4 linked regions of the Homo sapiens genome follow. The protein of the gene in region 2 interacts with the protein of the main gene of each other region in a pairwise test. Each region holds a gene or a part of one and is shown on either strand. Other genes may lie near its edges. The genes, in order: CDC73, TSGA10, LZTS1 and ZNF490.

Region 1 (7,872 bases), on a different chromosome or scaffold from region 2:
TGCTAACAACAATGAGTTTAACATAGCTAACAAAAAAAAAGTATAAAATCTAATAATGAATAGACTGTCATGATCACAAAAGAAACACAAAGGAAGGCAATGACAAAAAGCAAGAAGTAGGGAAAATACAAAAAATTCATACTCTAAGGTACTACAAACTTTTTAGAATTAGGCCCAAATTAGGCTCTGGGCTTTACCAATAGAGAAATCTAACCAGATCCATATCGAAGAGGATCCATAAGAGAAAACAATTACACTGCTTAGAAGAAGCACAATTATCACTGGTGCTAAATGTAAAAGAAATTTATCCTATGGCTCTTGATAAATAAGATACTGCTGAACAACATCCTTCACATTCTTACAGTAAACACAACACTGAATTTCAGGGGTATGACTGTTATGGCATCCCTCAAATTAGACCAATAATGTAAAACCAAAATGCTATTCTACCTGTGATAAAACAATGTAGTCTACTAACGGTGCAAGATCTCTAATGCAGGTACTAATATTACCTCATTCCAATCCTACCCTTCCTTCTACACTTTCCCCTTCTATATCTTTGAATCCATCTGAATATGGTCCACTATAATCAGCCCTAAACCTACTTTTCTACCTTCTAGTCCCATTTTTCCTCTAAACCAATGTATTTCAAACCACACACCATCAATTATTGTACTATGAAACCCAATAAATAGTTAACAACCATATTTTTTCTATTTTCAGAATAGAAAAGAACAGAAAAATAAAATGCACTGCATACAATAAGAAGAGTAAGTATTGTTTAGTGTTTTATATGTGTATATATTTCCATGTGCATGTGCACATATAGAAAATAAAAACAATTTCTTGGTGTGATAAACTGCTGAAAAAGTTTAAAATCTACTGTGATAAGCACTCCTTTTTCACTGGCTTCACTGGATTGCTGTCAACACATTTACTTTCCAGTTCTTTATGCCTTTAAGCATACAGCCTTTAAGTATACAGTTCACTCATCTTGGAAGACTTAACCCATCATTTAGCCCAGAGAATTCCTACCTATTCTTTAAAGCTTGTTTGTTCATTCATTCATTCATTCAAGAAAACTTTGTTGGATGTGAACTTGCCAAAGACAATTCTATGGAACCTTCTCCTAAATAACCCCAACTAGAAGTGACTGCTGTCTTCAAAAGCTATTGTAGAAAGCATTTCACATCAACTTATAGAAAGCATTTCACATCAACTTATCTGTTTAATCTCCTCTATTCAGACTAAGTTAACCTCCTTTGAGGTAGAAACCAGAGTCTTAGGAATTTTTTTAATCCTCAGATTGAACCACTTCACACCCTAGGTACTCCTTAGCCATTGTCTAAAAAAAAAAAAATTCACTAAAAATCCAACCACATGTAATTCTACCTATGCAAATTATTCGAAAGGGTAAAATACCAGAAACTCAGAATGTCATTTGATCAACATTTTATAAAGCTAATTAAATCATAAGACAAAAAAATTTTAAAACCAACCAATAGGCAGGGCGCCGTGGCTCACGCCTGTAATCCAAGCACTTTGGGAAGTGGAGGCGGGCAGATTATTTGAGGTCAGGAGTTCGAGACCAGCCTGACCAACACGGTGAAACCACATCTCTACTAAACTACATAAATTAGCCGGCCATGGTGGCGGGGGCCTGCAACCTCAGCTACTCAGGAGGCTGAGGCAAGAGAATCACTTGAACCCAGGAGGCAAAGATTGCAGTGAGCCAAGATCGCGCCACTGCACTCCAGCCTGGGCGACAGAGCAAGACTCCCTCTCAAAAATAAATAAATAAATACCAACCAACAAACTAAATTTCCCTAGTTTTTCATCGACTCTTCATAAAGCTTCCATTCAAAGAAACAAAATGAGTAGGGAAGTTGTAGCTCAAGGTTCTAATTCTAGAAGCGATGCACCAATGACAGTGACATCATTAAAAAGGCCCCTAATGACTGTTAGAGCCGTCTCTAGAAGTTTTCCTGAATGACTTAAACTGATAAAACTTCACATGGACCAACATTCCCAAACATTTCCCTTTAAAATACACTTCCGAAAAATCACACGCACCATCTATTTCTTAGATCTGTAAAGCTCACTCATTTCACCAACTCCTGAAGACCTCTCTAACACAGACTTTTATGACTCTTCCAAATTCACCAAATTTCTTTCCGGTCCTAACTTCAGGGTTGATTCCCTTTTCTCTTCTACAGGAATCACCCCCACCCCAACAATGAAAGGAGATGAAATAAACCAGGAGTTGCAAAGACCAGCGGAGATAGTTACATAGCAGCCTGGAAAAGAGAAAAAAAAAATAAAGAACAAAAAGAGGCGTCTACGGCACCAGACGGTGTGCTCCTTTGTGCACCTATGTTCAGGTATCCCTTGCGCACCAGTCCCACACTTCGCTGGTACACATACCTACTGATAAAAATTAACTGTAAAAGTCAGAAACTCCCACGGTACCTTTCCTTTGGGCTTCTCAAAAATTTTAAGTGATGAACTGCTCTAGAGCTCCGCCCCTTCTTTCCTTACCCTAAAAGTGCAACTTCTGCTCTAGAGAGAAACTTTCTTTTCCCCGAACACCCGTTTTATCCCATCCCCAGGGGAAACGGGGGGAGGGGTTAAGAAAGAGGTCGCCTGGGGGCGCCCAACTCTGCCCTGCCACCCCTGGGCCACAGCCATGCCGGACTTACCCCCAAACAACATAGTTGGTCTTCACATTCTTGGGCCAGGAGAACTCCCCGAAGATCACTTCGTCTCCCTTCACCACAATCTCCTTCTTCTGGATGTTGTACTGTCGCAGGACGCTAAGCACGTCCGCCATCTTCCCCCCCCTCGCCTCCGCCGGCTCGGGGCGCCGCCGCTGCCGCCGCGCCTGCCTCCTTCTTCTCTTGTCGCCTCGCCCTCTTCCTCCTCCTCCTTCGCCGCCGCGACGAACCAACAGCAGCAGCACTAACAGCCGTCCTCGCCTACGACAGCAGCAGGGGCAGTAGCCACCCAGGCCGCCGAGGACCCCGCGCTGTAAGGCAAGGCCCCGCCGCCGGCTGCCCGCGGAGAACGCCTGACTGCGCCCCTCCAGCGAGGCACATCCGCCGCCAGGGGGAGCCGCGACCGCCTGGAAAAGTGCCCCTCCCAGACTTCAGCTGGGCACGGAGCCCACTCACTCGCTGAAACGCTGAGCGCTGGGGCACCGCGCCCACGTACGGCGCACGTACGGGGAACTTTGCCGGGCGCGCGCGCGCGGAGCACGTACCCAGTACCCCGCGGCGCGCACCAAGCGGCGTCAGGTGCGCGCGTACCTGAGCAGTGGGTCAGCACTTCCATCCCCAGCACGTGCACTGAGTATTTAACGAACTGTCTCGGGTGCGACCAGAGGCTCCCCCGGGTCCCTGCTTTGGCCGGGATGGAATTCGGCAAGGATTTGCGGAACACTAGAATTACCTTCCTATTTAGATCGGACCCAGGCCTAGCCAAAGACCTCTAGGACTTAGTGATCCGGAGAAGCCCTTTTGAAAGAGTGGGGCTCTTGGGGTTGGGGTTGGGGTTTTTTGTTTGCTTTTGATGTGGAAAAGAACGAGTTTTGGTTTTTTGTTGGTTTTGAGTGGAAAAGACCGAGTCCAGAAAAAAAAAAAAACAGTTCTGGGCACTGCTCGTCAAGTTACATAGCTTCTCACAGCATCAATTGGTTAATGAAGAAAATGGGGTTAATACGAAGATAAGGTAAACGCGCCTAGCAAGTCAATAAAATATCCTAAATGTTGGATCCTCCCTCTTCATTCTTTGGATGATGACTTTTTCCATCGCGGTCCCTTCTCCCCGCCAATCCCGAAGGGCTATATTCAAAAGGCTGTGTTCCAAGATGTAAATGGGAAAGTTGCCCTAACAGAAACCCCAAACGGTCCAATTTAGAACACTTCCAGACTACCCAATTTTTTAAATGGTACTCAGAAGTCTCAGTGGTGTCCTTGACATGCGTTTTGAGACGGTTAAGATAAGTTCAATATACTATGGCCAACCAAACACATCCTATGGGATTGTTTTTTTTCTTTTACCATGTCAGAAGGAAAAAAGAGGCAACTTTGTGTTTGACATAACCAAATTCCTTGACCTGTTTTGAAAAAAGTCAATCTTTTCACAACGCAGAGGACTACAGATACAGAAGTGTGTGGTTCATTTCCGATATGATCTGTAGCCATTCTGCAACTGTTAGTTTGTGAAATTTTTTTCTGTTCCACCAATGTTTTCACCCCGTAGTATTCTCCTGAATCTCACCCCAAGCACACACATTATAAAGAAATGGCTACAATTACCTATCCCCACATTCTCTATTCATACCTGTGTCAGAGCACTCAGTACCATATTACTTCCCTTTATAGTTTATTTGCCTGCATCCACAAAACTGAAACACCATAGATCTGTGTCCTCATATCCTACTGTCTAACATTATTTGGTACATATTAGTAATAAATGGATGAATTCAATAAATTGATGGAAGCTCCTAGTAAATATCGAGTTAATACATGGATAGAGGCTTCTAATAAATGTTGAAGTAATGAATGGAAAGATAAGCTCAAGGAAGCCAAGATTTCATGATTAGGAGGCTCGACTATAGTCCCTTCAAACGATACTTAATTTTATTTCATACTCAAATAATGATTAAAGTCTCTCTTTTCAGAGAAATTATGTTTTTTAGGTTAATGAATTTTAAAAAGTGGTAAGATAAGTCATTAGTAAGTTGTTGCTTTTAACAGTTAAAGCATTGAAATTTGTAGATCATTTTTTTCCTGACCAGCCTGGGCAACATACCTAGACCCTGTGTCTACAGAAGCAATTGTAGATCATTTTTGTTTTTATCTAAGTACCCTTATAATTGCCCTACCAATACTGGTTCATTGGAGGATGTCAAAATACAATAAAAGGCAAGATTAGTGGTAGAGCTGAAAAATTAGAAAATTAATTAGAAAAAAACAGAAAAATAGTCTGGTTTCTTTGTCTTGGGCAAAAGCAGTCCACATCTCCAGATATTAGCTCCTGAAGAATTCCTAAAAAATCTTTAGTTTTATGTCTTCTGTTAGAGTAAATGCCCAGCAATCAGAAGAAAGTGGTATGTCTTTTTAGTTGGAAACGATGGATCCAACATCATTACCTTGGAGTTTAAACCACTACCTCAATTGCTAACAGTACCCAATAAGGTTCTTTCCACCAGTGCCCAAGGACAGTTTTATTCTGGTTCCTTTTCCAAAGGACCAAATTGCCAGGTTTTAGATCAATCAAAGTCTGCTTAGGTAAGTATTTTGGAAATGCACTTGAACCTACTAGGGATAATTCGGCAGGTAGCATAAGTCTCATGAAGCATTTATTTATATTACTCTGTAATGGTAGAACGTAGGATTGGAAGTAAAATTTTCAAATACATGGGTAGGGGGAGGCTGTTAATTCAAGAAGAGATAATCTGTGGGTCCCAGAAGGGGTTGATTTATTGTCATCAATCAATCATGACTAATGGCAATTTGAAGGGCCATGAAATTTGTTTTTCGAAACTGTTGATAATTTTAGTTTTAGGACTCTGTTAGTTCTCTTTACTTTTCCTAAAGTTTGGGGGAAATCAGTGTGTGGAGTTATAGCTCCCTAGCAAGGAAAAGCCTCAGTCCATCCAGAGAGTAAGCAAACAACAACCCAGACATAGTCATAGTTTATTCCAGGGAATTATTATGGGTTGGGTACTTAATTATGGGTTAATTATTTACTTGATGTCTTTGATATATATAGGTTTATTCAGATTGTCCATTTCTTCTTGTGTGAGTTTTGGCAGATTGTGTCTTTCAAGGGGTTCCATTTTATCTAGGTTATGAAATTAGTGGGATATAGTTGTTCACAGCATTTGTTATTATCCTTTTAATGTTCATGTCATCTGTAGAAATGTCCCCTCTTTTATTTCTGATTTTAGTAATTTGTGTCTTCTCTCTTCTTAGCGTGACTAAGAGGTTCATTGATTTCATTGATCTTTTCAAAGAACCAGCTTTTGGTGTGATTACTGATTTTTTTACTTTCAGTTTTACCAGTTTATGCTTAACTTTTATTATTTCTCTTCTTTTGCTTACTTTAGATTTAATTTGCTCTTCTTTTTCTAGTTTCCTGAGGTAGAAGTTTAGATTATTGATTTTTAGGTCTTTCTTCTTTTCTAATATATACATTCAATGCTACAAATTTCCCTCTAAACACTACTTCGCTTCCTCCCATACACTTTGGTAAGTTATGTTTTTATTTTCTTGCAGCTCAAAATATTTTAAAATTTATCTTGAGATTTCTTCTTTGACTCATGTTATTTAGAAATGTATTGTTTAAACTCGACATATTTTAGAATTTTCTCGCTATCTTCCTATTATTGATTTCTAGTTTAGTTTCATTGTGGTCTGAGAGTAGATATTGTATGCTTTATATAATTTTAAATTTACAAAAGTGTCTTCTATGGCCCAAAATGTGGTCTGTCATGGCGAATGTTCCTTGCATGTTTAGGAAGAATGTTTATTCTGTTGTTGTTGAATAGTCTATAGATGTCAACTATATCAAGATGACTGATGGTGTGGTTGAGTTCAATTACATCCTTATTGATTTTCTGCCTGCTGGTTCTGTTCATATCTGATACAGGGGTGTTGAAATCTTCCACTATAATAATGGATTCATATATTTTTCCTTGTAGTTCCATCAGTTTTTTGCCTTATATAATTTGACGCTCTGTTGTTAAGCACGTACACATTAAGCATTGTTCTGTCTTATTGGAGAATTGACCCCTTATCATTACATAATGCTCTTCTTTATTCCAACAAACTTTCCTTGTTTTGAAGTCTGCTCTGTCTGAAATTAAAATAGCTAATCCTACTTTTTTTTATTGGTGTTAGCATGATGTATTTTTCTCCATTCATTTACTTTTTATCTATATGCGTGTTTACATTTAAAGTGGGATTTTGTGGATAACATAGAGTTGGGTCTCATATTTTGAACCACTCTGACAATCTCTTTTAATTGGTGCAGTTAGACCATTGATGTTCAAAGTTATTATTGATAAAGTTGGATTAATATCTACCGTATTTGTTATTGCTTTCTATTTGTTGCCCTTGTTCTCTGTTCCTATTTATATCTGCCACAGTTTTTCTCCTGTGTGTGTGCGTGTGTGTGTGTGTGTGTGTGAGAGAGAGAGAGAGAGAGAGAGACAGGGTCTTGCTCTGTAATCCAGGCTGGAACCTAATGGTGTGATCATAGCTCACGGCGGCTTCAAACTCCTGGGCTCAAGTGATCCTCCCACTGAAACCTCTAGAGCGGCTGAGACTACAGGTGTACACCACCACACCGAGCTAATTTTTAAATTTTTTATAGAGACAGGGACCCACTTTATTTTTTAGGCTGGTATCAGATTCCTAGGCTCAAGAAATCCTCCTGCTTCAGCCTCCCAAAATGCTGGGATTACAGGCCTGAGCCACTGCGCCCAGCTGTTTGTGGTTTTAATTGAGCATTTTATATGGTTGTATTTTGTCAGTCTTTCTTTCTTTCTTTTTCTTTCCTTCTTTCTTTCTTTCCTTTCTTTCCTTCTTTCCTTCTTTCTTTCTCTTTCTTTCTTTCTTCCTCTTTCTTTCCTTCTTTCTTTCTCTCTCCCTCTCTCTCTCTCTCTTTCTTTCTTTCTTTCTTTTTGAGGTGGAGTCTCACTCTGTCGCCCAGCTGGAGTGTAATGGCACAATCTTGGCTCACTGCAGCCTCCGTCTCTCGGGTTCAAATGATTCTCCTGCCTCAGCCTCCCGAGCAGCTGGGATTACAGGTGTGCACCACCACACCCAACTAATTTTTTGTATTTTTAGTAGAGACGGGGTTTCA
Region 2 (7,024 bases):
TTGAGACGGAGTCTCTGTCACCCAGGTTGGAGTGCAGTGACACAATCTCAGCCCACTGCAACCCTCGCCACCCGAGTTCAAGTGATTCCCTGCCTCAGTCTCCTGAGTAGCTGGGATTATAGGCGCCCACCACTGCACCCGGCTAATTTTTGTATTTTCAGTAGAGATGGGGTTTCACCATGTTGGTCAGGCTGGTCTCAAACTCCTGACCTCGTGTTCCGCCTGCCTCACCCTCTCAAAGTGCTGGGATTACAGGCATAAGCCACCGCATTCGGCCTCAAGTAAAGACTTTCAAAAGCACTAGTTCAACTAGCTTTTCAGAATTTGTTTAGAAATGTATTAAATTATATTTCAAAAATGTGTAAACATTCCATTTTATGGAGTATTTTGTCTTTTAGTTTTTCCTTCGTTGGCTTGTCCTTCTTGAAGGGGTTTAACTTTTTTTTTAATGCATATTTTAACAACACACCAGTATCTATTACTGCCAGATGTGGAATCTGTACCATTCCATGAGAAAGCAGAATGGGAAACTGTAGCTAAAAATACCCTGGAGAAGAGCACATGAATAAAGGAAGATAGCACACACACACACACACACACACACGCAAATATGTGTAAAACTAACGCTAAAGAAATAGGAACGGCCGGGCGCAGTGGCTTACGCCTGTAATCCCAGCACTTTGGGAGGCCGAGGTGGGTGGATCACTTGAAGTCAGGAGTTTGAGACCAGCCTGGCCAACATAGTGAAACCCCGTCTCTACTAAGTATACAAAAAATTAGCTGGGCATGGTGGCGCATGCCTGTAGTCCCAGCTACTTGGGAGGCTGAGGCAGGAGAATCGCTTGAACCTGGGAGGCGGAGGTTGCAGTGAGCCGAGATCGCGCCCTCGCACTCCAGCCGGGGCATCAAGAGCAAAACTCCATCTCAAAAAAAAAAAAAAAAAAAAAAAAAAAAAGAAAAGAAACAGGAACAGAATTGGTTGGAAAATATAGGTTTGGGTTTTTAAAAATCTTTTTACTTAGTTACTTAAAATTTGAAAATTCAAATGGCAAGGTGAAATCTAGTTATTACTTAGTGAAATAACTTTCTTACTTTTTTAGGGCTAATGTTAGCTCTAAGTATCTGTTTATAGTTGGACTAGTTCAGGGTCAATGGAAGTTTTAAAAAGAGGTGTGGGAATGGTATTAAAGGCATTAAGATATTCAAACCCATTTCTGCCTTGACTGACTCCACTACTTCTACTCCCTCATCACGCCTTTGAAAAAGGAAAATATAGTTTATTTCTCTTACCTTTGCTCGAGGCCTAATGCTTACCTTCTTATTAGCTCTCACCTAAATATCAGTAGTATACTTCTATAAGTAATTGGATTGGAACAGCTTTTTGAAGATTTTGTTGCTGGCTAATATAAATAATACACTTAATCAAAATTATTCTTAAAAACTAAATTTAGGTATACATGATTGGCTTCTCTGGGTTTTATAACATAAAGAATGTGAGCAAGAGAACCAGTTCTAAATCCCAGTATAAAATGCCAATACTCCAATGCCAAACCATTGGTTTGCCTCCAAAAACAGGTGGTTATAGGGTTCTTGTATTGCTGGGTGACTGCATAAAATATCTTTTGACAAAGAATTTGATATACTGATCTCATAATTACACCTAAGTATAGCCTTTACTTTAATGAACATAATCTATTTTTACCCAGTGCAAATATTCACATTGATATACTAGGCTTTAAAGTGTGGAAAAGAATAGGACATACATGTTTTTAAAACCAAATGGAAACCTAAAGGGAAAGGGAAATTTTCTTTTTGTTCATTCAATTTTAACAGAAATAACAGCTTAAGATTTTTTTATTTAATACTTATATTATTTTTCAAGGAAAAGACCATTTCAGGCATGAAGAATATCATTGCTGAGATGGAACAGGCATCAAGGTAAATCAGTCGTGCAACAAATATATGAGCTCTTACTGGGGGGCCAAGTACCATGTTAGGTACAAAGATAGTAAGAAACAAGGGGCTTAATGATACGTGTAAGGTGCTAACTCTCTCATCAAAGGAGGCCTAAGTCTGTCTAAGGAACTAAAAGAGGGGATGGTGTTTGCCAAGTAAAATAAGGGGAAGGGAAGGGCATTTAAAGTAGAAAGAATAGCAAAGAACCACAGATCATGTTGACAAGCCTCTTGACCTACAAGTGGGTGAGTGTTGTTGAAACCTAGAGTGTAAGGGGAGAAGTGAAGGGAGGAGACTAAATAGGCAGGCAGAGGCTTGTGTAACAGACAAATGAGTATTGGTTATATCCTTTGGGCAATAAGAAATCATTAAAGAATTCTGAGGAGAATTTTGTGTTAGAAAGATACCTAAGCAGAAGAGGTGGTGATAAATTGGGGTTTAGGAGTTGTGGGACAGAAGGAGTGAAATGCTTTTGTATGAGGGAGAGACACCAGGAAAATGCCAAGTTTCTGGCCAGGGACAAATACTGAACATGAAGAAAGTATGAGGAGAAAAAATGATTTTACCTCTGAATTTGAAGAACCTTTGGGACCTTATTGTAGACATGTCTAGTAAGCAGTTAAATATAAGTCTGGAGTATAACAGAGGGTCTAAAACTGGAGATAATTATTTTGGAGTCATTGGATCTAGATGGGGTTGGGAACCATGGATATGAATAGAGTTTGTCTGAGAGAAGGGTTAGAGTGAGAATAATTGGGAGGCTAGGGCTTGAGCCCTGAAAAGCATTAATTTTTAAGTGGGCAGAGGAAGAGGAATCTGTAAAGGAGACTAAGCCATAACAGAAGTAGGATGAAAGCCTTCCTAATACTTGATGTAAGAAGTTTTGAAATATTTGGCAAATCATTGACTATTATGTATACTTTGTATCCTTTTCATAGCGAAATGATGGCAACATTGAGAAACTCTAATGCACTGTCTTTGCAGTATTTATTCCTATAAATTCAAACGTGTTTAAAATCTCTTCAAATGTTTTCATACTAACTGTCCATCTTCTGTCTTGTGAGAATTTGTTGCTCTGTTTCAGTAAAATGTCTCTTCTTATGTACTCTTTGATTTGTGGAATAGACAGTGTACTGAGGCCCTAATTGTGTGTGAACAAGACGTTTCCAGAATGCGTCGGCAATTGGATGAGACAAATGATGAGCTGGCCCAGATCGCCAGGGAAAGAGATATCTTGGCTCATGACAATGACAATCTCCAGGAACAGTTTGCTAAAGCTAAACAAGAAAACCAGGTACACTTGTTCCTAGAATCATTTTCTCCAAGAAAAAAAAATATGAATTTCTTGTGAGGAACAGCCCTCATTTTATTTTATAGAAGAGCTCAGACACTGGAACTAGCCTTTTCTTTTTTTTAAAAAATAACAAAATAGGCCACATAATTTTTAAATGGAATTCTCAGACACAAAGGGTTAAATATTAAAGAAAAGAGAGAACAGGGCTATATTTGTATTAAAGCTTAGTACTTCCTTGCTGAAGGATAAATATTTGAATAATCAAAAAATGAGAATAAAAACCTTGAGAAACCTTAAAGAAAAGAATAGGTGTTTTTTTTTTAAAAAAATGGACTACATATTATTCTGTTTTAAGTATGAATGTATGGACTGTGCCTTGTTTTTTGGTTCTCATTAGCACTGTGATTCTTTTTAGGAAAGTTCCTCTTATAATTACTCTTTCTCCCTAAGGCAATATATTTAAGTCTAATCTGCAGTTCTCATTTCCAATAACATTTATTTTAACGTGAACATTTAAAAATCCTATTTGGAAAATTTCTTCCCTTCTCAAAATTTTTAAGACCAAATGGTTTTCCCCACTTTGTATCACTTTCAGTGTGTTTAGTTTGCATCCTGAAAGTCTGTGTTCTTTAACTGTTGAAGATTATTAATTTACTTAAACAGCTATAAAGCTGTAATACTTTGTTAATCATAAAAAATTATCTGAGATGTTAAAGTATTTTGTTTAAAAGTAAATGAATAATGGGATCCTGGAATAGAAAAAGGACATTATGTAAAAAAGGAAAGAAATCTGAATAAAGTATGGACTTCAGATAATAATGTGTCAATATTGGCTTATTAATTGTGACATATGCACCATACTAATGTAAAATGTTAACAATAGAGGTGCCCTTTATAATGTCTTCACAACTTTTCTGTAAATCTAAAACTATTCTAAAAGTTTATTTAAAAAATTAATGAATAGCAATAAAAACCAAAACATGGGAATTTGTAAGGTTTGCCTTTGTGTACTCTTTACAGCTAGAGCATATGGGCTAAAGGTGGATATATCTTATTTATGAAAACCTAGAAATTTAGTTTCTATTTTTTTGATTGGTTTAGAAATAGAAGCTTATTATAGAAAGTCTTTTTTCTAAACAAAAAGTTAAGAGTTTAGAAAAGCCCCCATGTTTTTGATACTCAGTTACTGTTATATTTGACATATTTTTTTAATTGCTATACAGTGCACTTAAAAATTTTAACACTATTTTTATACACATTTTCTAATGTAGTGGGATAAAATCACCTATCACTTTAGATCATGCTTTTTTCTACATGAAGAGGCAGTAGAGTCGAGTAAGATTCACATGGGTTGAATCTTGCTCTCTGCGTGTGTGATCATATAAACCAACTTCTCTGAGTCTCTGTAGCATCTGTAAAAATGGTTAATAAGTGAGACTATACCTGGAAAGCACTTACTGTACTGTCCAGTATATCACTCAATAAATATTTTATAGCTATTATTAGCTTACTATAATATTGTAAGCATTTTCCTGCCTTGTTCAAACTTTGTAAACATTTTTTATAATCAGAAGAAAACTGTTGTCATAACAATTTACATATGCTCAAAAGTAGTTTTTTCTTCGTTATGGTCATAGGCCCAAGGTAGAAGAGAGGTCTCTCTCTGTGGACCACAGGTTAAGAACCAGTATTGCAGAAGACGAGAAAGTGGAAACTTAAAAAAAATTTATCCTTGATACCACAATTTTTAACAAATTGGGATAATGAGGTATTTTTGTGTTTTAGCACGATTTTTTTTTCACTTAACATAGGCAAATATTTCCCTGTATTATTAAAAATCATTCCAAACATTTCTCACAGGTATGTAATATTCCATTATGTGGTTATGCCACTATGTAGATATACTATTATTTACTGCATGATTCACTTAATGTGAATAAATATTGTCACTGTAACAAATGCCTTAATGACAGCATCTCATTAAATTTTATTAGATTTCATTTCAGAGTGAATCACAGATTATCAGGTTTCTTTTTAATTATTATTTATTTATTTATTTATTTATTTATTGTAGAGTTGGGTTCCCACTATGTTGTTCAGGCTGGTCTCAAACTCTTAGGCTCAAGTGATCCTCCCAAAGTGCCAGGATTACAGGAAAAACACCCAGCTGAGGTTTCTTTTTTAAATTAAAAAAATGTAAATAGACATTTTCAAATATAATGAATCCCCATGTGCCATTTCCCACCTTCAAAAATAATCAACATTTTTGTCTTTCTTGTTTTTATGAGCATTTAAAAATTGTCTCTTGATACATCACCAGATTCCTGATCACAGATTTGCTTTCTGCAAATCTACATTTACTCCAGTAGTACATGGAAATGCCCATTCTTTACCATAGCTGAATAGCTTTAAATCTTTATTAATTTGATAAGCAGAATAGTAATGTGTTGTTTTAATTAGCATATCTTCAGTTGCTAGTAGAGTTTTTTTCAGGTCTTACCTACTTATGCTTCCTTTTTTGAATTGCTTATTTGGGTCATTTGCCCACTTGCTATTGGGCTTATGTGTTTTCTTTTTTTATATGAGTTTATATATTAGGTATGTTAATTTTATTTGTTCCAAGTGTTTAAAAATTTGTTTATGGTATTTTTGAGATATAGAAATTTTTTATTTTTCATAGTCAAATATACCTATCTTTTTTTCGTAGGCACTGTCCAAAAAATTGAATGACACTCATAATGAACTTAATGACATAAAACAGAAGGTTCAAGATACTAATTTGGAGGTTAACAAGCTGAAGAATATATTAAAGTCTGAAGTATGTATTTTTTTTTTCTTTTTGCTCATGATACTTAGTTTTCACTAGAGTTAATTTAGAAGTTGGTATACTCAGAACGACAGGTGAATCAAAGCTTTCTTTAATACATAGTATATTTTAGTTTTGACAATGGTGGGTTAACTACATATTTAGAATGTTCAGAAAGATGCCTGGAGAATATGCCCCTTTTGTTTTGCAACTCTGCCACTCTAGACAAGCAGAATCTTCCTAACTGGATGATGGACAAAGGGCTAAAATCAATTTGACCTCGCTTATAATTAATTGAAAGTGGTGGGGTTTCCAGTTATAAACCTCTGACAAAAGAGGTTCCACCTGATTATGTAGCAGATCAGAATTGGTTACCCTGTTATGGGACCATCTATTTTTTTTAGGACCACAAGGCAGATGGTTCTCCTCACACTTCTCTGTTAGCAATCATTTGACCAGGCACATGTACATGACATCAGATGACTCCAATAAGTGTGGTGCATGTGTGGCAACTCAGGAATAAACAGGCAGCTTTACTGAGGATTTTAGATATGTCTATTAGGTAAAATATTATCTAAAATTGAGGGAGGATGTTCCCATTAATGGTTTGAGTGGTATGTAGGTAACACTATACCTATTATAATAATCAATCCACCTATACTATTTTATCATTTCATGTCAGTCCACAAACATATCTTGAACATTTATTTATGGTATGCATAGTACTGTTAAGGGCTTTGAGACAGAAGAGATTCTAAGGATTTCTAAATTGCAATCCTTGCTTTCAGGCAGCAAGCAGCCTGTGTAGGAAAAGCACGTGGTTTCCTACACTTCCTGATTTTAAGGTTCCAGCAATGTAATACCATAAATGAACAAAAGGCTTTTTATTTATGCAGGCTACTCAGCCTCTCTGATTCTTCCCATCTGTAATCGGGAAGAACACCCAAGTAAGTGAGATAATTTAAAAC
Region 3 (6,323 bases), on a different chromosome or scaffold from region 2:
CGCAAACCCCTGGCTATGTGCAAGTCAACAACCAGTGGTTTAACTTGCCCACTGCTGGCAGCTGTATCACCCCCATTTAACACCAATGGTATTGGTTTTGGTGTCAGCCTGATTTCCGTCATCGACGTTTATGCCCACATCCTCTGACCTCACCCCTGCATGCACCCAGCCCTCCTCTCTCCTGTCTACTGGAGTAAAGACTACCTCACAAATTCACTGCTGTACCCAGTGACTAGTATCATGCTGGCTTGGATGCAGAGCCCAATCCACATCTGTCAAACGAGGAATCATTGTCTTCTCCTCTTGCTCTTCTTCTCTATTTCCACCCCTATCCCCCATCAAAATTTGGCCAAGAGCAATGATGAAAACCGAAGCCACAGGTTAGACCCATGTGTCTCTGGATCTTGGCCATCTGGGGTCATGGGAGACCAAGGCCAGTCTGGCTGAATCTTAAGAGTGAATGAAGTCCAGAGCATGTGGCTCTACAGAATGGATTCTTGGAACTAGCCTGGAAGCCACCTTCACATTTCCTTTCACAGTAGAAATTTCCCCTTGCCCTCAGTGAAACACTGCACAGTCCTGGAGAAAATCCGACCCTACCCAGGATGCGTGCTTGGGACCAAGAATTTCATTCCAAGGCCAACCCTGTATTCATGCCACGAAGGGAGTGACACAGTCATGGCTGAGGCATGGGCCTGGCTTTGAACCTCAGCTTGACCACTTATGATCCAGGTGATTGTAAATACATTAGCCATGGTGGCAATGGGGTATAGTGATTAAACTGTTGGGATCAAATCTCTACTCTTATACTTTATATTTTATATATATATATATATATATATATATATATATATATATATATATATATATTAGCCCTCAGGCTGGTCACTTCACCAGCTATTTGCTATCATAACCTCTCTGTGCCTCAGTTTCATTGATGTAAATTGAGGACTACTAATAGTACCTACTTCATCGGGTTGTAAGGAATAGATGAGCAAATGTATGGCTTGGCACTTAATAACACTACAAATTATTAGTGAAAGTATGTTTATAATAATATACTTCTGTGTGGCTAGGCGTGGTGGCTCACGCCTGCAATCCCAGCACTTTGGGAGGCAGAGGCAGGCAGAGCACTTGAGGTCAGGAATTCGAGATCAGCCTGGCCAACATGAGGAAACCCCGTCTCTACTAAAAATACAAAAATCAGCCAGGCATGGTGGCAGGTGTCTGTAATCCCAGCTACTTGGGAGGCTGAGGCAGGAGAATCAGAGGGGAGGCGGAGGTTGCAGTGAGCCAAGATCACGCCACTACACCCCAGCCTAGGTGACAAAGCGAGACTTCTCAAATAATAACAATAATAATATACTATGTGTCATTATACATGATTATTATTATTTTATCATTTTACTATATAGCCTAGCTCGATAACCTGGGGAAAAGGTCACAGCAATGTTCAGCTTACTTTCAGATTGGACAAAGGCTGGAATGCCTAACACCGGGCCACCGCATCCGGAGTGGCTTGGTTATTTTAGGCAGCTGAGCTGTCACTTCCCTGGGTAAGGACACTCACCTCTTGGCACTCTGTCTCCACCCCACCCTCGGCAGGTGTGCCAGAAGTCAGGCGAGATCTCCCTCCTGAAGCAGCAGCTGAAGGAGTCCCAGACGGAGGTGAACGCCAAGGCTAGCGAGATCCTGGGTCTCAAGGCACAGCTGAAGGACACGCGGGGCAAGCTGGAGGGCCTGGAGCTGAGGACCCAGGACCTGGAGGGCGCCCTGCGCACCAAGGGCCTGGAGCTGGAGGTCTGTGAGAATGAGCTGCAGCGCAAGAAGAACGAGGCGGAGCTGCTGCGGGAGAAGGTGAACCTGCTGGAGCAGGAGCTGCAGGAGCTGCGGGCCCAGGCCGCCCTGGCCCGCGACATGGGGCCGCCCACCTTCCCCGAGGACGTCCCTGCCCTGCAGCGGGAGCTGGAGCGGCTGCGGGCCGAGCTGCGGGAGGAGCGGCAAGGCCATGACCAGATGTCCTCGGGCTTCCAGCATGAGCGGCTCGTGTGGAAGGAGGAGAAGGAGAAGGTGATTCAGTACCAGAAACAGCTGCAGCAGAGCTACGTGGCCATGTACCAGCGGAACCAGCGCCTGGAGAAGGCCCTGCAGCAGCTGGCACGTGGGGACAGCGCCGGGGAGCCCTTGGAGGTTGACCTGGAAGGGGCTGACATCCCCTACGAGGACATCATAGCCACTGAGATCTGAGGGGCTGCCTGGGAAGGCGAGTCTGGGGACCTGGCACTGGGAGGCAGGGCTCTCCCGTGCATCCCCCCTGCTCAGCAATTCAGACCCCTCTGAGAGACGCCACTCCCTGGGACACAGACCCAGGACCCCCGAGGGGAGGGCAGGATGGCCTTTCCTTCCCTCTCTGATGTCCCAGTGCTCACCAGCCCTGCAGCCCACCAGACGTCAGGCCCTGACTCCTCTGGCTTTCCCAGGAGATGGGTCCAGGGGTCTGTCTGCTTTGGTTAAGGGCTCCCTAAACTTTGGCCTTTGTTCGAAATAGATATCCTCTCCCCCTCCTCCAGGGAAGGTGGCCACAGCAAGTACAGCGGCTCCCCTCTGCTTCTCATCCCAACCTCTTTTTCCTCCTGGACACATTGGAATGCCTTGGAAATAGAAAGAAGCCATATATGACCAGAAGCCTTGGAACCAGCCCCATCAGAACCTGAGCTATTTTCCTCTGGCCGCAGAGGTGTAGGGGTGGAATGAGCCGCGGGGAAGCTGGCTTTGAAACCTCAGGGCTGTCCCAGCCCCGGCAAGCCACAGGAAGGAGGGGAGAGACAGGCAGCCCAGCAGTGTGGAGACCCTGCCACAGCCAGAGGAGGGCAGAGGGAGAATCCAAGGGTTGAGAGCCAGTGGCGGGTGATGGCCAGCCCCTGGGGCCCAGCCCCTGTTTACTGGTTCTTGCAAATGGGAGCTGAGCAGCCTCTGGACAGCCAGTGACCTTTGACCTCGGTGACCACTCTTCTTTAAGCCATAGACCCTGAGGCCCTGGGCTGGGTGCTGGGAAGGGAGGGTTGAAACCACCGTGAACCAGAGGGTGTGGCTTTCCAGGCACCCTCAGGGAGCCTCCCCATCTGTCCAGCTGGGGCCAGAGGCTGGGAGTCCCTACCTGCTTCACGTTGGCCGGCGGCTACTCTGGAATGTTTTTCCCTCCCCAGAATCAAGCTTTTGCTTGATCCAGAAGAGCCCATATCACTAAGATGGCATATATGTGATCTGGGCATTTTCCTCCTCTGCCTACAGCCAGGTTTAGCGGCAAACCTTTCCCCCTTAGCACCTTCAGGGCTGAGTTCTGGGTTTCTAGAGGTCAGGACGGCTCCTCAGAGCGCCAGGAAGCCAGAGCCCCAAGCAGGACGAAAAAGAGGCATACACACAGCAGTGTGAATAGCCTGGCCACCAGCCATCCTCCCTCCACCTCAAGACCCCCATTTGTCCCAGACTAAAGGATCCAGAGAGCAGCTCCCTTTCTCAGGAGCTTGGGCAGTGCCCCAGGGAGTCCAGGGTTTCTCTGCAGATGTGCGGAGCGGGAGGCGGTGGTAGAGAGAGATAAAAGGTGGAGTTTCTCTGTTGTTTGGTTCAGGGATTTTATTTTTAATTTTATGAGACAGGGTCTTGCTCTGTCCCCCAGGCTGGAGTGCAGTGGCATGATCATAGCTCACTGCAGCCTCATACTCCTGGGCTCAAGCAATCCTCCTGCCTCAGCCTTCCAACTAGCTGGGACTACAGGTGCGCGCCACCGTGCCTGGCTAACTTTTCATTTTTTTTGTAGGGACGGGGTCTCGTTTTGTTGCCAAAGCTGGTCTCAAACTTGTGGCCTCAAGCAATCCACCTGCCTTGGCCTCCCAAAGTGCTGAGATTGCAGATGTGAGCCACCGTGCCTGGCCAGATTTTTCTTTTATTCTTCTTTCTTTTTCTTTTTTGCTTTCTTGTCTTTTCAGAAGCAAGCCAGACCTAGCAGGCTGTTCCATGTTCTATTTTTGACTGTAGCCACAGCTGCTGTTCTCAGGACAGCATCCCTTCCCACATGCCTGCGCCTGCTGCCTGCTGAGATGAGGAGGGGAGCGTCTGGGAACTTGCGAGTCCAAGGCCAGTCCCCATTTCTGCCTCGCTCACCGCTGGCCCTTAGAGACCCCGAGGTAGGGGTGGGGAGATGCTTCTCTCCTTGCCCCCCGCCCTCATGGGTCCTAGCCCTTCCCTGAGTGCGGGCTGAGGCCAGAGTCACCTTTTCTGTGGCTGGCTCTACCTTCCTGTCCCTGAGGTTAAACGGTGCCCATCCTGCCATCCTCAAACGACAGAGGAGCTTTTCTGGAATTTCAAACCATTGCTCTTAGTCCCAAGCTAGGCTTAAACCTGGAATCTACAAGCCAAAAGTCCCTCCCTGCCTGAGGGCAGTACCCTCCATTGGGCACAGTCCAGACCCAAGTCAAAGATGCCCCATTCCTTGCGCCTCAGCCCTCAGTTCCTTCATTTCCACCAGGCCGTGCCTTGTTTGAGTTTTTCCTCCCAGTGAGACTGCCCCACGGAGACAGAGGAAAGGGCTGGCTCCCCCTCCCCAGGCTGGAGACCCCCCCCCAACTCCAGGAAAGAGCAGTCAGAGTCCAGTGCTCTGCCTCAGACGTTGCCTGAGAAGAAGTGGCTGCCACACCCAGGGGAAGGCCCTGAGGCGGAGGCTGTGCTCCGCCATGGTGTCCCGGTACCTTCCATACACAGAGGAGTGCAGCCTTCTCCATATCTCCATGGCCCTGTCCCAGGCCGGCCCAGATGTGTCCCCCCCAGGCCTTGTCCTACGTCCAAGGTGGCAGATGTCTTCCCTGGGCTGCCACCAGCCCCCGCCCCAGAGTGGCCCACCGTGGCACTAGAATGCAAGTATCCTGCGACCTTGCAACCTCACCTTCCTGTGGGTGTTCTTTCCTGCCCTGTCCAAAAGCGCCCTCACTATTCTTGGACCATGCCAGATTCTGCCTCTCTGGAAAGAGGCTCTGGACAGCAGAAGCCTCCAAGCACAGAGCCTGGCCCCAGGCCCCAGACAGGGTGGGCTTCCTGCCCTTCCCTCTGGGCACGCCTGCTGGCCGACCCACTGACCCACTCGGATGGACCAACCTGCTCTGTCCCCAAAGGACGCCTGCAGGAGAGAGCAGCACTCCGCATCACCTCACCAAGGATCGGACTCTGCCCCTGGACCTGGGAACGACTGGACTGTCACGGGGTTCCCTCCTAGCTCTCCCAGTGAACTCCTGCCAGGCACACACAGCCCCTATAGCACTGAGCTCACATGGGACTGGGATATGGGGGCATCTCTTCCCCAGAGAGGCACTCAGTGAGCCTCCTGTGCCTGGCCCCAGCCTGGGCCATCTCTTAGGTGAGACAGTTGCCCGAAACTAAGCCAGGCCTGGCTGGAGGAGCAGCAGCTTGGGGAGAGGGATTTCCCTGCAGACCTCAAGCCATCATGCGGTGGGTGCTGCCATGACAGAGGCTGCACCCCTGGGCCAGCGGGGCTGCTCACCCACCTCTTGTGCAAGGTGGCCTTTGTGCTGCGCCTGCAGGCAGAGCTGGAGCCCCCAGCAGAGGCAGGCTGGGACGGACCAGCATCTGGAAGATGTACATAGTTATTTTTCTCTTTGTGGTTTCTTGTTTGGTTTGGTTTGCTTTTGACAGCTTCATTTTATTTTTGACGTCACTTTTTGGCCATGTAAACTATTTGTGGCAATTTTATGTTTTTATTTATGAATAAAGAATGCCATTTCTCACGCCCTCTAGAGCCACGTGTATCTGCCCTCCTCTCCCCTCGCTGCGGTGTGGCAGCTCCCTGGGACTTCTCCCCTTGGAACAGGAAAGATGACGTCCCTTCCACCAGCGAAGGGGGTGAGGAAGGCAGCACAGGGCAGTGGGAAAGGGGCCCCCGGGGTCAGACAGGCTTCAGCTGGCCCCTGCCCCCATCGCCTACCCCGGGACCTTATCTGTGAAATGAGAGGAAAAGGGACCCAGGGACAGGTGTCCATGTAGAGTCAGAGCGTCCTCTCCAAAAGAGAGCCCCTCCCCACCCAAACTGCATGCCCTACCGTCTGCTCACCTCACCAGCCAACTCCTGGGTCTACTGCATATGGCCTCCTGGCAAAAGACCAGCATGGCTACAATTGCCACTGCCCCAGGGCCCCCTGGTGGGGCAGGTGCAGTCACCATCATGGCCATCTGTCCAGCCTTCTTGGTTCCAGCCTACCTGGTGCCCCCTTGACAACCTTCCCTACCATCCCGGGCCCACAGCCTAGGCCCAGAGG
Region 4 (7,823 bases), on a different chromosome or scaffold from region 2:
TGGAGGCCAGGATTGATAGCTTCCCCATTTCGGGTTTTGGTAGACAGGAAGGACGGTGACCCAGACACTGAAAAATACCAGCATGCTGAACTTAAGGATTGGCTTATTGAAAATGTCAGGCAAGTTCCTGGCCAGAAAAGCCACATTGAAGCTCCCATGAGCCAAGGAACCCAGGATTCACAGAACAGTCAATAACCAAATCGTGGTTTTATGTGAAGATGACATATTCAGGCTCAGATTATGTATCCACATGCATGAAGGCTGTAGTCATTCCCCATGAAATTCCTCCCACTTCAGCATCCCAAAGTGTTGGGATTACAGAGTCACTTAGATCAGGGAACTGATAGCAATGACAAAATTAGGTACCCCCGACACTAACCCGTGCCTTATCCGTCTCTTGCATGTTTACCTTGAAGGTCAGAACTGCAGTGATCGTTTTGTCCAAACTATGCAAACAAGTAAACATGACTCCAAATTTGTGGTTTTTGTGTTTTTTTGAGACAGGGTCTCGCTCTGTTGCCCAGGCTAGAGTGCAGTGGCACCATCACAGGTCACCGCAGCCTCAGGTTGAAGCCATCCTCCCGTCTCAGCCTCCCGAGGACCTGGGACTATGCCACCATGCCCAGCTAATTTTTTATCTTTATTTATTTATGTATTTATTTATTTATTTATTTATTTATTTTTGAGACAGAGTTTCACTCTGTTGCCCAGGCTGGAGTACAGTGGCGCGATCTCAGCTCACTGCAACCTCCTCCTCCCAGATTCAAGTGATTCTCATGCCTCAGCCACCCAAGTAGCTGAGATTACAGGTGTGCCTCCCACCATGCCCAGCTAACTTAAAAAATATTTTTAATAGAGATGAGGTTTCAGCATGTTGGCCAGGTTGGAAACCAACTCCTGGCCTCAAGTGATCCACCCACCTTGCCTCCCAAAGTGCTGAGATTACAGGCATGAGCTACTACACCCAGCCATTTTTTTTATTTTTTGTAGAGACAGAGTCTCACTACATTGCCCACACTGGTCTCAAACTCCTGAACTCAAGCAATCCTCCTACCTCAGTCTCCCAAAGTGCCAGGATTACAGGCATGAGCCACTGCACCCAGCCCAAATGTGATATTCCAAAGGATGCAGGTGGCTGTGTTGGGATGGCCAATGAAGGTAAGGGACAATGGAAGTACAGGGTGAGGGCAATGAACAGGACATACCTGAGAGCCTGGTTATTGGCCTTGACTATGGGAGTGCCTTCACAAAGACCCGAAAGACCCCCCCACAAAGAGGTCATAGAAGGACAGACCCAAATGGTCATTATAAACAAGGAAGGTAGCCACGCTGACAGGTAGCGATCTCACTTACAGTTTGAGTCTTGATGCTTTGTCCATGGTGTTCACTGTTCTGCATCTAATTAGAAACAAGAGGATGCATTTTGTGAGTTTCAGCAATTTAGAACTAAACATGACCTTTGACAGCCTTGGAAGCATTGTTCCCCCTGCATCTACCTGTACACACAGAGCTACCAGAAGGGTGGATCATGGGAGTTTTCAAGATTACACTGTCTCCTCTATAATGGGAAAAATGAAATATGTTTCTACTTTAAAAAAAAAATTTAGAGACAGTCTCTCTCTCTCCCAGGCTGGAATGCAGTGGCACAATCTTGGCTCACTGTAACCTCAAACTCTTAGCCTTGAGATCCTTCTGCCTCAGCCTCCGAAGGAGCTAGGACTACAGGTGAACACCATACCCAGCTAATTTTTAAAAATTTTTTGAGAAATGGGGTCTCGCTATGTTGCCCAGGCTGGTTTTGGGCTCTTGGTCTTTCCAAGTTCTGTAGGGACACTTTAGAAAACTTATTTGAGATAAATTTCCTTCCACTTTACAGCAACACGGATGGAACTGGAGGCCATTATCCTAAGTGCGATGATGCAAAAACAGAAAGTCAAAAACTGCATCTTCTTACATATAAGTGGGAGCTAAACAATGGGTAAACATGGACATACAGAATGGAATAATAGACACTGGAGATGCCAATAGGTTGGACAGAGAGGGGGGATGAGGGATGAAATATTACCTATTGGGTACAATATACACTCTTTGGGTGATGGGTGCACTAAAAGCCAGACTTCGCCACTATGAAATATATCCACGTAACACAAGTGCATTTGTAACCATAAATCTACAAAAATAAAAATAAAAATGAAAAGCAATAAAAACATGCTTAAACTAAAAACAAACAAACAAAAAAACAACGAAAACAAACCATTTCCTTCCAGAGTAAAACGCAGTTTACTGAGCACGTCTCATAGATCGTGATTGGTCTGAAGAGTCCCTGTGCCCAGGTTAGGGTTGCAATTTACCACCCGAGCCAAGTGCTCGGGTGTCCTACGGATTGTTTTTTCTTTCTTTCCTTTTTTTTTTTTTCTTGGGATGGGTTCTGGCCATGTTGCCCAGACTGAACTCAAACTCCTGGAGTCAAGCGATCCACCCGCCTCAGCCCACCCACCCCCCGACCTCCCCCACCGCCCCCACCACGCAGTAGCTGGGACTACGGGTGTGCGCCACCAAGCCCTGCCTTGGGGTTCCTTTTCTAAAGTGCCAAATGTGTGGAGGTGGGGAAAAGAAAGGTGGACGCCTCAACGCTGTTATGGTCAAAGATTAAAATGCAACCACACTTTTTATTACACATGATGGGGTAACCGTCTGTTTATAAACAAGGGTCACTATTCCACGAGAGGCCTTACAACATTATGCCAAGCCCCTGGTACCTGGAGGACATCAGACCCTCCTGTTCCTGTGCGGCCTTGACTAGACGACCACTTGCTCTGGACTTGCTCCTCGAGGGGTCGCTCCATCTGGAAACTGAGACTGGAATTCCTGCGCATCCCTGTCCCCGCATCCAGAAACACTGCAGGAAGACTTCCGTGTCCGACCCGAGATCCGGAACAATTTCTGCTTCAACACAATTGTCCACGGAGGGCACCAGTTCCGTCCCACCGGCGGAAGCGAGATCTGCCTAGCTACTAGACCTGCTGCCTAGCTGTCATTCGGACAAAAAGGGGCGGGGCTGTATAATTGTCCAATCAGGGGCGGCGCCGGAAAGGAGGGTACGGCTACGCTGCGCAAATGCGTGCTACGTCACTGTGCGATCGGGTTGTGCTTAGCTTGGGGTCTCCTGGCCCCTTGACGCGTCAGGTTGCTGTACCCCTGCATCGGATGCGCTGTACCCTGCGCTGGCTCCGTGAACCTTAGGGACAACACCGGGACACCCGCGAGGCCGGAAAATGGTGAGTGTGCAGGGCCGGACTAGTTGGAACCGGCCGTGATCGCGGGACCCGGGCCTCCCCACGGTCACCTCCGGCCGCAGTGTGGGGCTGGGCTGGCAGCTGGAACTCCAAGCGTCCTGTCCCGTCCCTGCGCGGCGACTGCGGTCCCAGCCCCGGAGCCCTCTCTGGACAACTCCGCGCCCGCAGCCCCGCGTCTTTCCCAGATCGTGCAGGGACCACGGGAGGGTCCTGGGGAGAATCCCGCCTTGTGTGTTTGGTTTGTGTGGGAGGAGCTACAGTCTGGGGTTCCCAGTCCCTTCTTTCTTCCCAAAGGCTGTTTCCCCCTGAGTCTTCCAAAGATGTTGGAAGCAGAGTCTCAAATCCACTACCCTGTCCCCCCAGCCTAGCTCCTCCCACGGCGGGCCATTAATCCCTAGATTTCCGGATCCCTCCCCGAATTCCCAAACGCCTACTTCCGCTCGCCAGTGGAAAACATCGTCACCAACTCTTTGTCCTGTGTGGTGCATTTCAAACACACGCAGTATTTTAATAATCTTTTTTCCAATAGATGCCTCTTTTAAACGATTTATTTCTTGTTTGTGGATATTTTACATCAGAGAAAAATCAGAAAAATTATTCACTTGGAACTAATCTGCATAAAATGCTGTGGCCCTCATCCTGGTACCTTTCCAGGGCACAGACATCCTATGGGAACTCCTTTGCGTTGAGGTTCCTTTTTGTAAACTTTCCTGGGTAATCTATCTTTTCAGCACAGTTTCAGATTGGCACTGTCCCGCCTTGGGTTTATGACCTTGAAAAGATTTATTCACTCGAATGTCATTTTTCCAATAAATATAAAATATATGTTATCAGAAGAACTTGAGAGACAGTACAAAATATTTCCAAAGGGCAAAAAAGAAATGAATCTCAGAAAACAAAAAACATCCCAATATTACATTTGTTAAAAATTCTTTGTTCTTTCCCTGAGCACATGGAATATGTTTCTCAGGTCTGTTCTTTTAGTTTGATGTTTCAGATGGTATTCCAGGACTTAAACTTGCAACATCTAGAAGCATTCAGATAGAAGTAATACTTTTGTAAACTATTTATTGCCATGGAAATAATTAACTGACATTATTATTTTCTTTTTTTTTTTTTTAACAGATGGGGTCTGGCTGTGTTGCTCAGGCTGATCTTGAACTCCTGGGCTCAAGCGATCCTCCACCCTCAGCATCCCAAAGTGCTAGGATTCCAGGCATGAGCTACTATTACCGGCCCAACATTCTCATTTTCTGAAAGCAATAGTGGGTTTTCTTGTTAAATGGCTTAAAATTTTCTTGCTTCCTTCCTTTATTTATTTATTTATTTATTTATTTATTATTTATTTACTTTTTTTTTTGAGACGGAGTCTAGCTTTCTCGCCAGGCTGGAGTGCAGTGACACGATCTCAGCTCACTGCAACCTCTGCCTCTCGGGTTCAAGCGATTCTCCTGCCTCAACCTCCCAAGTAGCTGGGATTACAGGCACAAGCTACCACGCCCAGCTAATTTTTGTATTTTTTTTTTTTTTTTTTAGTAGAGAGTGTTTCACTATGTTTCCCAGGATGGTCTCAATCTCCTGATCTCCTGACCTCATGATCCTCCCGCCTTGGCCTCCCAAAATGCTGGGATTACAGGCATGAGCCACCACGCCAGGCCTTTTGCTTCCTTTATACGTAAACACTGTGTTTAAGTAATTCTGCTGGATTTTTTTTTTTTTTTTTTTTTTTAAAGACCAAGTCTTGCTCTTTTGCCCAGGCTGGAGTGCAGTGGCACAATTTTGGCTTACTGCAACCTCCGCACTTGGAAGCTGAGGAGCCACAGGCAGATGCTGTTAGGGGAAGAGGGGAGGATGTCTGAGGTTTTAATTGTGGTTTCCTTGGGTGTGTTTTTAGACATTACATTTGAGTTTCACATCTGTAAGGTAGGTACACTGAGTGTAATTGGTGCATATTGACAGCCATTCTCCTGCCTTAGCCTCCCAAGTACCTGGGATTACAGGCACACACCACTATGCCCGGCTAATTTTTTTGTATTTTGAGTAGAGGCGGGGTTTCACCATGTTGGCCAGTCCGGTCTCGAACTCCGGACCGCAGGTGATCCACCCGCCTCAGCCTCCCAAAGTGCTGGGATTATAGGTGTGAGCCATCGTGCCAGGCCTTCTGCTGGATGTTTAAGGAACAATCCTTAAGAATTTAAGGGCCCGGCACGGTGGCTCATGCCTGTAATCCCAGCACTTTGGGAGGCCAAGGAGGGCGGATCACGAGGTCAGGAGCTCGAGACCATCCTGGCTAACATTGTGAAACCCCGTCTCTACTAAAAATACAAAAAATTAGCTGGGCGTGGAGGCGGGCGCCTGTAGTCCCAGCTACTCTGGAGGCTGAGGCAGGAGAATGGCGTGGACCTGGGAGGCGGAGCTTGCAGTGAGCCGAGATCGCGCCACTGCACTCCAGCGTGGGTGACAGGGTGAGACTCCATCTCAAAACAAAAAAAAAATTTAATTAAATTGTCTCATTTAAAATTACTAGTAGTGTTCCAGAGCCTTGTGACTGGGGAGCAGAGGCCTGAGATAAGTGATTCCAAGCTAAGTCCACCTTTGAGCCTGCAAAGAAAGATCATTGAAGGCCCAATTGGTTCTTCCTGGGGAGCCTCCCCTACAGGTCTGCCAGCTACTCATATGCCCACCATGGAAGGATCCTCTTGTACTGAAAGAAACTGCAGAGCACTTGGAAGCTGAGGATGCACAGGCAGATGCTGTTAGGGGAAGAGGGGAGGATGTCTGAGGTTTTAATTGTGGTTTCCTTGGGTGTGTTTTTAGACATTACGTTTTGAGTTTCACTTCCGTAATATAGGTGTACTGGGTGTAATTGGTGCATATTGACAGTGTCTGTGAAGGTCAGGACTTATGTTTCCTAGAGACAGGGTTAATGAATTGGGGAGCTCATTTGCATCAGAACCTCAATCTCAATCTGGTTGAGAGTTTCCTCACTTGGGAAAACGGAAACCTAGGGAAGCTAATGTTTCTTTGCTGCCATAGGAGAGAAGGAGGTGTGGAGCTCCCATAGTTCCTTGCTGATCAGGTGCTTCTATCCTCCATTACCAGGTACTGACCCACTCTAGGGGTTACATTTTTCTTTATTTTTATTTTTTTTGAGACCGAGTCTCACTCTGTTGCCCAGGCTGGAGTGCAGTGGCACGATCTCGGCTCACTGCAACCTCCGCCTCCTGGGTTCAAGCCATTCTCCTGCCTCAGCCTCCAGAGTAGCTAGGATTACAGGTGTGTGCCACCAGGCCCGGCCAATTTATTTTGTATTTTTAGTAGAGACGGGGTTTCACCGTGTTGACCAGGCTGGTCTCAAATTCCTGACCTCAGGTGATCTGCCTGCCTTGGCCTCACAAAGTGCTGAGATTACAGGTGTGAGCCACCACGCCAGGCCGGGGTTACGTTTTTCAAGCTGGGAGAGTCTGGGTCCAAGCTGGGGAATATGTTTAACTTTTTTTTTTTTTTTTTGGAAACGGAGTTTTGCTCTTGTTGCCCAGGCTGGAGTGCAATGGCACAATCTCGGCTCACCGCAACCTCCGCTTCCCAGGTTCAAGCGATTCTTCTGCCTCAGCCTCCCAGGTAGCTGGGATTACAGGCGTGCGCCACCATGCCCAGCTAATTTTGTATTTTTAGTAGAGATGGGGTTTCTCCATGTTTGTCAGTCTGGTCTTGAGCTCCCCACCTAGGTGATCTGCCCACCTTGGCCTCCCAGAGGGCTGGGATTACAGGTGTGAGCCACTGCGTCCGGCCTTTTTTTTTTTTTTTTTTTTTTTTTTTTTTTTTTTGATACAGCGTCTCACTCTGTTGCCCAAGCTGGTCTGGAACTCCTGGCCTCAGGCCGTCCTCCCACCTTAGTCTCCTATGTTCAACTTTTTTTTTTTTTTTTTTTTTTTTTGAGACAGGGTCCCACTCCGTCGCCCAGGCTGGAGTGCAGTGATGTGATCATTGCTCACTGCAGCCTCCACCTCCTGGGCTCAAGTGATCCTCCTGCCTCCTCTGAGTAGCTGGGACTGCATGCATGCACCACAATGCCCATCTAATTTTCGTATTTTCTGTAGAGATGGGGTTTCGCCATATTGCCCAGGCTGGTCTGGAACTCCTGGGCTCGAGCACTTCTCCCGCCCTGGCCTCCCACAGCGCATGGCCTCCCACAATTTCTTGACATCCAAAGATACTTTTGCTGTCTTAAGGTTTTATATTTTCCAGAATGTAATACACGTGGAGTTATTCAGGATATAGCCTTCACAGATTGGCTTCCTTCACTGAGCAATGTACTTTTAAGGTCCTTCTGTGTCTTCATGGCTTGATACCTGATTTCTCTTATCGTTGAACAATATTTCATCATAAGATTGTACCGGCCGGGCACGATGGCTCATGCCTGTAATCCCAGCTCTTTGGGAGGCCGAGGCGGGCGGATCACAAGGTCAGGAGTTTGAGACCAGCCTGGCCAACATGACAAAACCCCGTCTCTACTAAAAATACAAA

Evidence for each region.
Region 1: the proteins of TSGA10 (region 2) and CDC73 interact in binary tests that used the Homo sapiens proteins (3 or more experiments, as listed by UniProt).
Region 3: the proteins of TSGA10 (region 2) and LZTS1 interact in binary tests that used the Homo sapiens proteins (3 or more experiments, as listed by UniProt).
Region 4: the proteins of TSGA10 (region 2) and ZNF490 interact in binary tests that used the Homo sapiens proteins (3 or more experiments, as listed by UniProt).

The regions. Positions count from the first base shown.
Region 1 is NC_000001.11:193,117,159-193,125,030, reverse strand, and holds the start of CDC73 (parafibromin), read right to left. Parts: upstream 3,001-7,872; 5' UTR 2,831-3,000; coding exon 2,700-2,830; intron 1-2,699.
Region 2 is NC_000002.12:99,067,932-99,074,955, reverse strand, and holds part of TSGA10 (testis-specific gene 10 protein), read left to right. Parts: intron 1-1,882; coding exon 1,883-1,938; intron 1,939-3,081; coding exon 3,082-3,250; intron 3,251-5,957; coding exon 5,958-6,068; intron 6,069-7,024. UniProt on the Homo sapiens protein: Plays a role in spermatogenesis. When overexpressed, prevents nuclear localization of HIF1A.
Region 3 is NC_000008.11:20,245,646-20,251,968, reverse strand, and holds the end of LZTS1 (leucine zipper putative tumor suppressor 1), read left to right. Parts: intron 1-1,605; coding exon 1,606-2,247; 3' UTR 2,248-5,804; downstream 5,805-6,323. UniProt on the Homo sapiens protein: Involved in the regulation of cell growth. May stabilize the active CDC2-cyclin B1 complex and thereby contribute to the regulation of the cell cycle and the prevention of uncontrolled cell proliferation. May act as a tumor suppressor.
Region 4 is NC_000019.10:12,607,805-12,615,627, forward strand, and holds the start of ZNF490 (zinc finger protein 490), read right to left. Parts: upstream 3,010-7,823; 5' UTR 2,877-3,009; coding exon 2,760-2,876; intron 1,399-2,759; coding exon 1,354-1,398; intron 1-1,353. Other genes in the region: ZNF791 (zinc finger protein 791), read left to right, coding at 3,276-3,278. UniProt on the Homo sapiens protein: May be involved in transcriptional regulation.